Linked DNA regions of Homo sapiens: region 1 is linked to region 2. The links come from fine-mapping of genetic effects on gene expression. A gene starts in region 2. The other region holds a variant in brackets. All regions are shown on one strand. Distances are from middle to middle.

Region 1 (5,363 bases), 25 kb before region 2:
ACAGCCCTCAGTGTTTGCTGGGCATTGTTAAATGAATGTGCAAAAGTTGAACGACAGACGGACATATTACAGGGGGACCTTACCCCCAGTGAGCTAATGATGACATTGATAATTACCCTTCATTTTTTAGACACAGTCTTCTGGGATATATTTTCAGTGTTCCACGTGGTCTTCATCTTGATGCGTCTGTTTCACATGTGAACGTAAAGTTCGTGAGCATCTAGTTGAGGCTGAGGAATCACTGCTTTCAACATTCCCTGTGGCTTACATCCCTGCATTTTTATGATCACTGTAGTTTTAATCACTGGCACTCCTGTGTTTCTATTTTCCACGAATTGCAAAATGCAATAAAAAATTCAAATATTGTAAACAAGCATGGCTATACTGACAAAGGAAGGCCAACATTTAACTGCTAGGTGATTTTCAAAAGCTCAGCATCTTTATGTAAAAAGCATAGTAGGGATGCAGCGAAGTCAGAAGTCAAATTTTATTAGAGCTGAGGAGAGCCTGTAGTAGCTTTTGCTTTTTCCCTGGTGGCTGCTCACTTGAATTTCAGACAGTTCTAGTAATGAGAGAAAATAAATAACATTACAGGGTGAGCTAACCCTATGAACCCAGACCTGTAAATTTGTAGCAAAATGATACTTAACCTCACAGACTTGTGTCTTAATCTCCTTAAGAGGCTTTTTTTGAGCAAGGCTGAGACATCTCAGAAGATACTAAATCTGTGTCTATGAACCTGACCACAAAAGAGTTCTTCCCTCCCAGGGTCTGGAGGGTGTGAGTGCCTGTCGGTCCGTGTGCTGTTTAACCCTCTGGTGCTGGACTCCGGGTCTCCCTCCGCTCTTTTCTCCCTGATGCAGAGCCCACACTGGTGCGCTAACCTGCAGCGTCTCTGTGCTTCTCTTCTTACCTCCTCTTTCCCCTTCTCTTTCCCTCTTGCTGTGGTGTGTCCAGAAAAGGAAGTCGAGTTCCAGCGTGCACCTAATGGTGAGCCTTGCCTGCCCACCCATCGCCCACTCCATGCTGCCTGTGCCCGCCTGCCAGCCACGCAAACCTGTTCTGCCACGTGCGTGTGCCTCACTCATCCTCACTGCATGTCTGTGCTGTGTGGGCAGGTGTGGCCTGTCCTGCCAGGCGGGGGCCATTGCCCAAGGTCACCCAGTAGCCTAAAAAGTGGACATTGGAAGGGGTGGTACGGCACCCCCTGCTGTGGAGCTTGGACAGACCCCAGCGACCCAGGGTAGGATGTGAAGCTGGTAGGGACTTGGGGCAAGCAAGGGAGAGACCCTCACTCTCTTGTCACCCAGAAGGAGAGGCCCTGCTTCCCAGGCATGAGGAGCTGCTTCCTACAGACTGGCAGCTGGAGGGCAACTGTGTGGTGGGCAGAGGAGCTGGTTGCAGGCTCCCACTTGTGAGTCTCGCTCTCCTGGCTCTGCCCCCGTGCAAATCCCATTCTCTCTAGCTGTGCCCAGTGGTTTATTCTGCCCACCCAGCCCTCGGGGGACAGCTAACTCATCTTTCTCACGGGACACTGGGCACCAAGGGCAACACAGCAGCCTGAGTCATTATGAAACCATCCATTAAAACCAGAGGTGGGGGCCGGGCGCGATGGCTCACGCCTGTAATCCTAGCACTTTGGGAGGCCGAGGCGGGTGGATCACAAGGTCAGGAGATCAAGACCATAACACGGTGAAACCCTGTCTCTACTAAAAATGCAAAAAATTAGCCAGGTGTGGTGGTGGGCGCCTGTAGTCCCAGCTACTCAGGAGGCTGAGGCAGGAGAATGGCGTGAACCCAGGAGGCGGAGCTTGCAGTGAGCCGAGATCGCGCCACTGCGCTCCAGCCTGGGCGACAGAGCTAGACTCCGTCTCAAAAAATAAATAAACCAGAGGTGGGGCCACTTGGGTGACATCCCAGCCCTCTGCAGGTTTTGTGGGCACCCTGGAGTCCTTGCCCCCTGTGAGGGTCTTGGCCTCAGCTGGGATTTACAGGTAGGGCAGCCCTCTCTAACCAACCCCGAACAGGTCAGCATCATTCACTGAGCTAGGTGGGCTTTGCTTCTTGGTGGGAATGAGAGACAGCAGAGCTCCCGTGAGTTTAGACCCACCGTCTCACTACTCCTGG[GC/C]CCCCTCTTCTCTAGCCTGTCGCAGTCTGTGGAGTCTTGTTCAGTGGAGTCACTTGGTGCCTGGCTTGAGGTTCCATGCCTAGCCCTGGGTTTGGGGATGTCTGAGCCATTGACAGCAAGCTGGCGGTGGACGGCTTCAGGTCTGGTCCAAGAGGCCTCCAGGCAAGAAGTAGGACAGTCAGGATGCTTTCTGTGTATGTCCTAGGAGAGAAGACACACATTCTAGCTGTCGATGTATCATCTGTGCCCTGTGCAGGGATGGTAGCCACACATTTGTCTCACTGCCTATTGAAGAACTTGCAGGCATCAGGCTGCTCCTCAGTGGCCCCCAACCCCACTGGAACTCAGTGAGATGGAGTACGCTGGTTAGGGAACTATCAGAGGCAAAGAACATCACATGGATATGGCTCCCTGCCCTGGAGATCAGCCTTCTTCCTTTCTTCCATCTTCCCCTTGCCCCTCCCTTGCTGTGCCCCTCCGTGTAATGTTTTTGTTTGTTCGTTTGCTTTTGGTTTTTTGAGATGGAGTCTTGCTCTGTTGCCCAGGCTGGAGTGCAGTGGTGCAATCTTGGCTCACTGCAATCTCTGCCTCCCAGGTTCAAGCAATTCTCTTGTCTCAGCCTCCCGAGTAGCTGGGATTACAGGCATGTGCCACCATGCCCGGCTAATTTTTGTATTTTTAGTAGAGACGGGGTTTCACCATGTTGGCCAGGCTGGTCTTGAACTCCTGACCTCAGGTGATCCACCCGCCTTGGCCTCCCAAAGTGCTGAGATTACAGGTGTGAGCCACCGTGCCCACCCACCACCATGTAGTTTTGAAAGGCAAGGAGATATCCCTGGTGGTCATGGTGCTGTTGGGAATGTTGGCCTGTGTGTGGCCTACTCTGTCCTGGGGGCTGGATTCTGGGACTACAGCTACAGCCCCGCTGGGTTTCACCTGCCCCTCCCCGGAACACTGCCCTTCTAGCTGATCAGGCCTAAGATTTGTCAGACAAAAAGGTGAACAGCACAGTCCTGACTCTGCTCCCTGAGGTCAGTGAATGCATTTTGTGTCTGAAAGGGACTTCCACCCCCATCCTCTGGACACCATCTCTTAGGCCAGGCATACTTTTCTTTTCTCCTTCCTCTTTGTTTCAGGCTTCGAGCTGGTGTTGTAAGAAGGAAATACAGGTGCTGGGTTGAAAGTGCAGCAGGAGACTGCCCACAGATAGGGGACCAGAGTTTCTGAATTTTGTTCTGCTTTCTTATAAACTACCCCCCTTTTTCCTGTACAGTGGGAAGAAGATCTTGAACTTCTTTGGGTCAGGTGTGGATTTTGCAATGACCTGGCACCTGGCATAAGCAGAGATTTCTGGAGGGATGCTTTAAAACAAGGCTTTGGGCTGGTCCCACCTTGAGGGTGCCCCCAGAGCTAGGTCTCTGGGCCCCACAAATACTTCCTCTGATCATCTCTCTAGCCATCGCTCCCATCTACACAGCGTTATGGAGGCCACCTCAGGCCTACCTCCTCCAGGCCAGACCAGGGGGCAAGGGAGGTCTGGGAGTTGAACCTGAGTGGCCTTGGGGACTCTGGAGGAACTAAACCATCTGTTTTCTTGTCTCAGCCACAGAGCAACAACAAAAACAGTCTCGTAAGCCCAGCCCAAGAGCCCGCGCCCTTGCAGACGGCCATGGTACCTCCTGACTACAGCTTCTCCGCCTCTGACCCTGGCTGCCTCCTGCCCCTTCCCTCTTCCTCCTCTTGTGCCCCCTCCCTGGCCTCCTGGCCTGTTCCTTTCTTGGTCCCCATAGAACTGACTGCTTTGTGTGCCGCCCTGTATGCCCCTTCCCCTTCATTGTCCCGCCTGGCCGCGCTCCATCCCGCATGGCAGAAGTGCTGCTCCTGCTCCTGCTCCTTTCGCTGGTGGGGGGAAGAGTGATCAGGGCTCTCAGCTGAACCTCCCAGGCCCAGCCCAGGACCCCTAGTGGGTCTGCTGTGGGGGCTGGGAAGGTGAGTTGCTTAGGAAAGGAGAGGGTAGGAGCTTTCTTGGGACCTGAACATCAGTTCTTGGAGGCCCCCTTGTAAAACCTGCCTCAGCCTCTCCTTTGCAAAGCCAGAAACAGGAAAGAGGGCTGGGGTCCCCACCTCTGGATGGTGCTGAGGTCTCCAGGCTCCTGGAGTGCCTCATGCTGGCTAAGTTCTCTCTGGGCTCCTCCAGGGGTTCTGTGTGCTCTTGGAGGTCCCTCTGCTAGTGGTGGCTAACTAGAGAGTCAGCAGGGGGGTGACTGGGAAAGAGGGAGAGGTGATGTTGCCTGCTACTCCCCTCCTTGCGGACCCTCATACCACATGACGTGGCGGCGTGGGGCCAGGAACTAGGGAAGGCAGAAGGCGGGCGCAGTGGGCAGCTCTCTGGGCTCAGCTTGCTGAGGGGGCCTCCTGTCCTGGCTCTTTCTGGGAGACCTCATTCTTCTGCCCATGTTCCTGCCTCACACATTCCCCGTGATGAACGCTGTGGGCGGGGCCCGGCCTGTGCCCTCAGTCCCACAGCTCCTCTAGTGTACCTGCCCCGTGGGAACCCCATGTGGAAAGAGCCCTCAGAACTGACAGGAATCAGGGACAGAGGCCCTTGCTGTCAGCCTCCTGGGCACCTGCACCTGCCAGGCCTCTCTTTCTTACCAGCCCAGTGCTGCTGCCAAAATCCAGGGCTATCCCAGCTGCCCGGGACCCCAGTTGAGCCGGGATATTTTGTCTTCTGGAGATGGCTGGTGGGCAGGCCTCAGTGGTCATCATAGGGTCTGCGGGGGTCCTGGGGTGCAGGTGGGGCTCCTCAGGGAAGAGCCATAGTCTGTCCCCAAGTCGGAAGGGTAATCTTCATCTTCTCTCACAGGAGCCACAAACCACTGTGGTACACAACGCTACAGATGGGATCAAGGTGAGTGGCTCCTGAGCCTGCCTCCTGCTTTCCAGGTCAGCAGGAGACAGGTGGGCTGGGTCCCAGGGGTCTACAGGCTGCACCCTGAGGCCAAGGTGTTTGCAGAGGCTCAGCTGAAGGTAGCCTGTGCCCACAGTTGCTCCATGCTGAGGAAGGGCATTATACCTTACAGAGCTCAGGCTTTGCAGTCAGACAGACCTGGTCTGAATCCTGGCCCTGCACCTTAGTATCCTTTATCTGCAAATTGGGGATGATAATAATAGAATCTTCCTCCATATGTCGGAAGTTTAAATGAGAGTAAACGTTCACTGAAAAAATAGGCAA
Region 2 (5,333 bases):
ACAGTGCTCACCAACCCTGCTGACAGGGCCTACTCCTGGTACCAGGTCTGCCTGAAGCTAGGGACACACAGGCTAAAGGTTGGGGGGAGGGGGGAGGGGACAGTGACTGCTAGAGAGGGAGAAAGGAGTGAGGTTTGAGAAACTTAACTAGTGCCTTGGGGACGGGTACCCGTGCTGTGCTGTCTGTCTCCAGACCAAGCGTAAGGGCAGAATACTGTCAAATCACCAGTCCTTCACCTTCCTTCTCTTTGTCCTTCAGCATCAGCGAGCCCATGGAGACCCAGTTGCTCTGAACTATACCTTCTATCAGGTGATTTCAGCCTCCTCCCAGACCCCTCTGGCACTACGCTCCCTGCAGAACCGCTGTCTTGTCCCTGGCTACTATTCTACCCATCTACAACGCTGGCTGACTTACTACCCCTCTGGACAGGTATAATCCCCACAAGAGCCCTCAGTGGGGTTCCCCTTCCCCTCTTCTTCCCTTCAGCCCAGAGGCTTCTTAGGAATATAGAGGGAACCACATCCCTGTCCTTTTAGTTGCTGATTGTGGATGGGCAAGAGCTGCGTACCAACCCAGCAGCCTCAATGGAGAGCATCCAGAAGTTCCTGGGTATCACACCCTTTCTGAACTACACACGGACCCTCAGGTGGGAGAGCATGACCCAGGGGAGGAGTACTGTATGGGAAATGGGGAAGCAGGTTGACCATGTCTGTTAGAGACATAGATTTACTCTGTCTCACAAGGAGAGACATGTCCCTGTGGGCAGGGAAGGGCATTGTGCATTTATGGAACTTGAGTTTCTCTTTTCCCTGCCACCTCATGGCCTCTTCCTGTTGAGCAGGTTTGATGATGATAAGGGATTTTGGTGCCAGGGACTTGAAGGTGGTAAGACTCGCTGTCTAGGCCGGAGCAAAGGCCGGAGGTATCCAGATATGGACACTGAGGTAAGTAAAGCCAGGGGCAGGGGAATCCCTCTCCACTTCCAGGATCTGATTCTGTGTCCCACTTCTTACCATTTCTGCCTTCATTTTCTCCTGTCAGTCCCGTCTTTTCCTTACGGATTTTTTCCGGAACCATAATTTGGAGTTGTCGAAGCTGCTGAGCCGGCTTGGACAGCCAGTGCCCTCGTGGCTTCGGGAAGAACTGCAGCATTCCAGTCTGGGCTGATGTCCCAGCCTCCCATACCAGCAAAATGCCCCCTGCTTCCCTAAGGGGCAGGTCCAGAGCAGGGCCCACAAGGGGGATTAGAGTGGCCTGGCCCCTCCCCCTCTACCTCAGTAGCCCCCAGGCCTGAGATGGCTGAGAAGGGAAGGGTATCCTTTTCCCACAGTTCTGGGACAAATAAAGGGGCTTCCTTTGGTACCCCACATAATAGTGCTAGGTACCTTTGACCCATCATCTTGGGAGGTGGGGAGGAATGAGAGGGTCCAGGCAGGGTGTAGGGGAATGTATTAGTCCAATGAGATTTCCCTCTTCATCCGCAGCAGTGTATCTATTCTATACCTGGCTATGGGAGAGACCCCTTGCATGGGAGGGACCCCTTGCTATGGCCCCTTTAGCCAGGCAGTGGGATCTACCTGTGGCCCGGCCTCCCTAATGTCATTCACATTGAATGGGGATGAGGTCGGACAGTGGCTCATAGAGCCGAGTATGAGCCCTAGCTGTGGGCTAGAAATGTCCTTAATAAACATCCTTATTTTTCTGTTTTGTCTGCCTCCCTGGAGTGGGAAAAACCTAGACTAAAGCAAGTGTCAGAAGTTTCCTCCCCAGTTGAAGGTTCATCTGCACATGGAATTTGGAAAGAAGGGAAAGGCCCAGGTCGACTAGAGTAAAAAAGGAGTTTATATATTTATAAATGCCAAATAAATACCAGAGGCCACCCAACGCCCCCTCCCAGACAGGGCTGTCTCCCCCAGCCCTAGGCTTCTAGGGTGTGAGACATCTTGGCCCCAAGCTATAGCCCAAGAGCAGCTGTCAGTCTGTGCTACCAGGGAACTGAGTGAGGATGATCTGTCCAGCCAAGTTTCACTCCCCCTGTGTGAGGGGCCCCCATAGCCACAGGCCTGGGTCCCTGTATAGGACCCTAAGGGTGAAAGACTCAGGGGGAGAAGGTGGCCATCTCGAGTGAGACCCGCTGCCACAGCTCCTTGGTCTGTTTGCTGCGCTTGAGGTTCTGTAGGATGTCGTTGAACTGCATCATGCCCATGGGCGTCAGGCAGAAGGCGCTGCGGGCACTCCGGATCGCATTCACAAAGTCGTCGTAGTCCGCAGGAGTCAGGTGAATCAAGCGGTGGTGGATGTACTGGAGGAGGATGTGTGCAGGATGAGCCTTAGTACAAAGCACAGAAACAGGCCCTGCCTCCCTCTGGTCCAAGACCACCCAGGAAGTGCTCCACCCTGCTCCATAATTCTAGGTTGTCACCTGCATGTATGCCTGCTGGCAGCGCTGCACCAGTTGGTGGAAGGCCGGGGCACGCAGGTGGTTGTGGGCATGAGCGGGACTCAGCCGCTGCAGCGTCTCCATGACGATCTCCTGCAGCACAAACGGGCTCAGCACCCCCTTGGCTGCCCCCACACAGAACTGGTGCACGTAGTTCACTCCTGGGGGGCAGGGGGAGGGGCATGAGACGGGGGTGGCCACCTCTGCCCTAGGGACCCAACTTACAGATCTCAGCTCTGGCCTGGCAGAGAGCCTCCCTCCACCCCAGGAGCTGAGGTAACCCTCCGCCCCCCGCGCACGCACACATACCCGACCAAGGCCTCAACTCTGAGCAAGAGCTAGGAAGGAGGTCTGGGATAAGGAAGGTGGGGAGAGCAGGTGGGGGGGGGGCAATGGTCCTAGGGAGGGGAGGTGTTACCCAGCTTTGCTGCCAGCCCCAGCAACCATTTGACATCATCAGTGTAGGGGGGGGAGCGGGAGAAGTTGTTGGGGTGATCGTTGTGTGCCCGGCGACCCAGCATCTCCAGTGCCAGCATTCCTGGGAGATAGATAAGGGTGGGCACATGGTACGGTGTATCCTCTTCACCCTTTACCCCAACCTGTCACCTGACCCCACAGTAAACAAATGAAGAGCTAGAGGAAGGGTCCTCTGAAGAGCCACTGGCACAACTGCAGGTAGGAGCACAGAAAGGGATGTCCTCTCACCGACACGGTAGGCAGCATGCAGGTGGTGCAGGCTGTGGGGATTGACTGGCTGACTGTGTGTCTCCTCCTCGGGCGGTGGAAAACCTCCGCTCACCAGAGGGCTGGGCTGTGTGGTCAGGGCAGGCAGTGAGGCACCTTGGATGGCTGGAAACGTGGATGCTGGATGGACACTGCTCACTAAGTGGGGTGAGAGCCATGTGAGGAACTCAGAGCCCAAAGAGAGACAAAGAACATTCCCTCCCCACCTCCCCTGCCCAGTGTGCCTCCCCTCCATTCACCTGTTCCCTGGCCCCACAACTCACAGGCCACACTGGTGGGCAGTGGAAGCCCTGGCTCTGTGTGGTAGGGATGTACTGTGATGGGTGCCATGGAAGGAACGGGGAAAGACACAGCAGTGGCAGCAAGTGAGGGAGGAGTCACTGAATAAGGGTACTGAGCCCCTAGGAATGCAGGATGCACACCCTAGGGGCAGGGAGAAGAAAGGGGAAGATGCCAAACTTGATTAGGATGTTGCTGTCGTGCTTCACCCCCACAAGCTGCTATCCTGACATGTTTTTTTTGAGATAGAGTCTCGCTCTGTCCTCCAGGCTGGAGTGCAGTGGCACGATATCGGCTCACTGCAACCTCTGCCTCCCAGGTTCAAGTGATTCCCATCTCAGCCTCCCAAGAAGCTGGGATTACAGGCGTGCACTCAGCTAATTTTTAGTAGAGACGGGGTTTCCCCATGTTGGCCAGGCTGGTCTCGAACTCCTGACCTCAAGTGATCCACCCACATCGGCCTCTCAAAGTGCTGGGATTACAGGCATGAGCCACCATGCCCGGCCGTCATTTCTTATTTTAGTTGGGCTGGGTCCCCCAGACTCCCACCACCTCACCAGGACTCTCCGACTGACCAATTATACTCCCAGAGTACCCACTCCAACCCCCTATGAATTCCCAGTATTTTCCCATGCCTTACCCCCCAGCAGAACACTGGTCTCACCTGTGGGTATGCAGAGCTGGGCACAGGGAAGACGGCAGGCCGGGGCATGTGAGGCATGGGGTGGGCAGGGTGAGCTGGGTGAGTGAGATACTGAGGGCTACAGGGCAGGTGGGGCTGTAGAGCAGTGTAGGGGTGCAGGCCAGGGGAGTGGCCATGCCCCAGTCCTGGACCCGGGTATAAACTAGACCCCACCGATATGACGGGCACCACTGTGGCTGCTGCTGTCACTGCTGCCGCTGCCACTGTAACCGGCTCAGTCCCTGGGCCCCCTCTACCCTCAGGCATACCCCGCCCAGCTTCCCCACCTGCCCTGATCCCACTGGCACTACAGCTTGTAGCCCCTTCACGGGCTGTGGATGAGCCACCTGCAGTTTGCTCATACAGCCAGAACCACTGGTGAGCAACCTCAAACAACACTTCAGGGTACACGCCCCCACCCTTAGCTGCCTCTTCCACTGCCATGCAGGCCTTCTCCAACATCAGGTTGTCCTGGAAGAGAGGGGCACAGAGTGTTAAGGGGGAAAGGCCTTTACCACATGGAAGGTGTTAGATGAGATTCCAATGTCTCCCTCAGAGCTGTCTCATTCCCAGGGAATCATCAGAGGTCAGTGTCAATGCTTAGAGTCCATTATCAGAGCAGTGAGTGCTTCACACACTGAGTAAATACTGACCAAAATGAGTCAAGACCCAGGTTATAGTCCCAGTTCCAAACTAATTTAACAGCCCCCTCCCATTCAAGTCTTAGATGTATGAGGCCTTCCCTAAGTTTTCTATCCTGAGTGATCATCTTGGTCCCTAAACCGTAGGCCTCCATTTCCTTATCTGTAAAATAGAAATAAACCTAACCTTTGAGTTGTAAGGTAAAGGAAAGATGGGTGTGAAAGCACATTAATGGGTAAAATGTTGCCATGAGAGGACCAACAATCATCTGTAAACTCCAGGATACGGGAATCAAGAGCTGGGCCCTTAGCTTTCCCATGCCCAACCTCCCTGCCCAGATGCCCCAGAAGAGGTTCCCAGATTGCCCGTAGAAATACCTGTTCCTTGCACTGCACCAGGGCCCGCTGGATCTCATTAGGGTTCAATGCATGGGCGTGAGGCAGGCAGCTCAGGGCCAGCTCTGCTGCCGCCCTCACCATATTGGAGTCTCTTGCCCGTGATGCCCTGTCAGCCAGGGATGCAACCTCAGGGGGTGTCAGGTGCCC

The links. PIP is the estimated chance that this variant, and not a neighbour inherited with it, causes the effect.
Region 1: its variant is the best candidate, but not a certain one, in a credible set for the expression of ZSWIM8-AS1 in whole blood (TOPMed, PIP 0.73).

Annotation. Positions count from the first base shown.
Region 1 is chr10:73,823,716-73,829,078 of GRCh38, reverse strand. CAMK2G (calcium/calmodulin dependent protein kinase II gamma) reads left to right here. Exons shown (of 23, transcript NM_001367534.1): 15 at 958-990; 16 at 3,732-3,800; 17 at 4,995-5,039. Among named protein-coding and RNA genes, the nearest start is that of NDST2-ZSWIM8-AS1, 15 kb to the right of the region's middle. The variant GC/C (reference allele first, on the strand shown) is at 2,128.
Region 2 is chr10:73,798,286-73,803,618 of GRCh38, reverse strand. ZSWIM8-AS1 (ZSWIM8 antisense RNA 1) reads left to right here and starts at 2,220. Exons shown (of 4, transcript NR_038357.1): 1 at 2,220-2,279; 2 at 3,060-3,116. ZSWIM8 (zinc finger SWIM-type containing 8) reads right to left here. Exons shown (of 26, transcript NM_001367799.1): 20 at 5,166-5,333; 21 at 4,129-4,617; 22 at 3,449-3,608; 23 at 3,147-3,323; 24 at 2,860-2,979; 25 at 2,424-2,602; 26 at 1,826-2,303. The coding sequence ends at 2,100. It overlaps NDST2 (N-deacetylase and N-sulfotransferase 2), which reads left to right. Exons shown (of 15, transcript NM_003635.4): 11 at 1-45; 12 at 260-430; 13 at 538-647; 14 at 843-945; 15 at 1,043-1,703. The coding sequence ends at 1,168. NDST2-ZSWIM8-AS1 (NDST2-ZSWIM8-AS1 readthrough) reads left to right here. Exons shown (of 18, transcript NR_182658.1): 11 at 1-45; 12 at 260-430; 13 at 538-647; 14 at 843-945; 15 at 1,043-2,279; 16 at 3,060-3,116.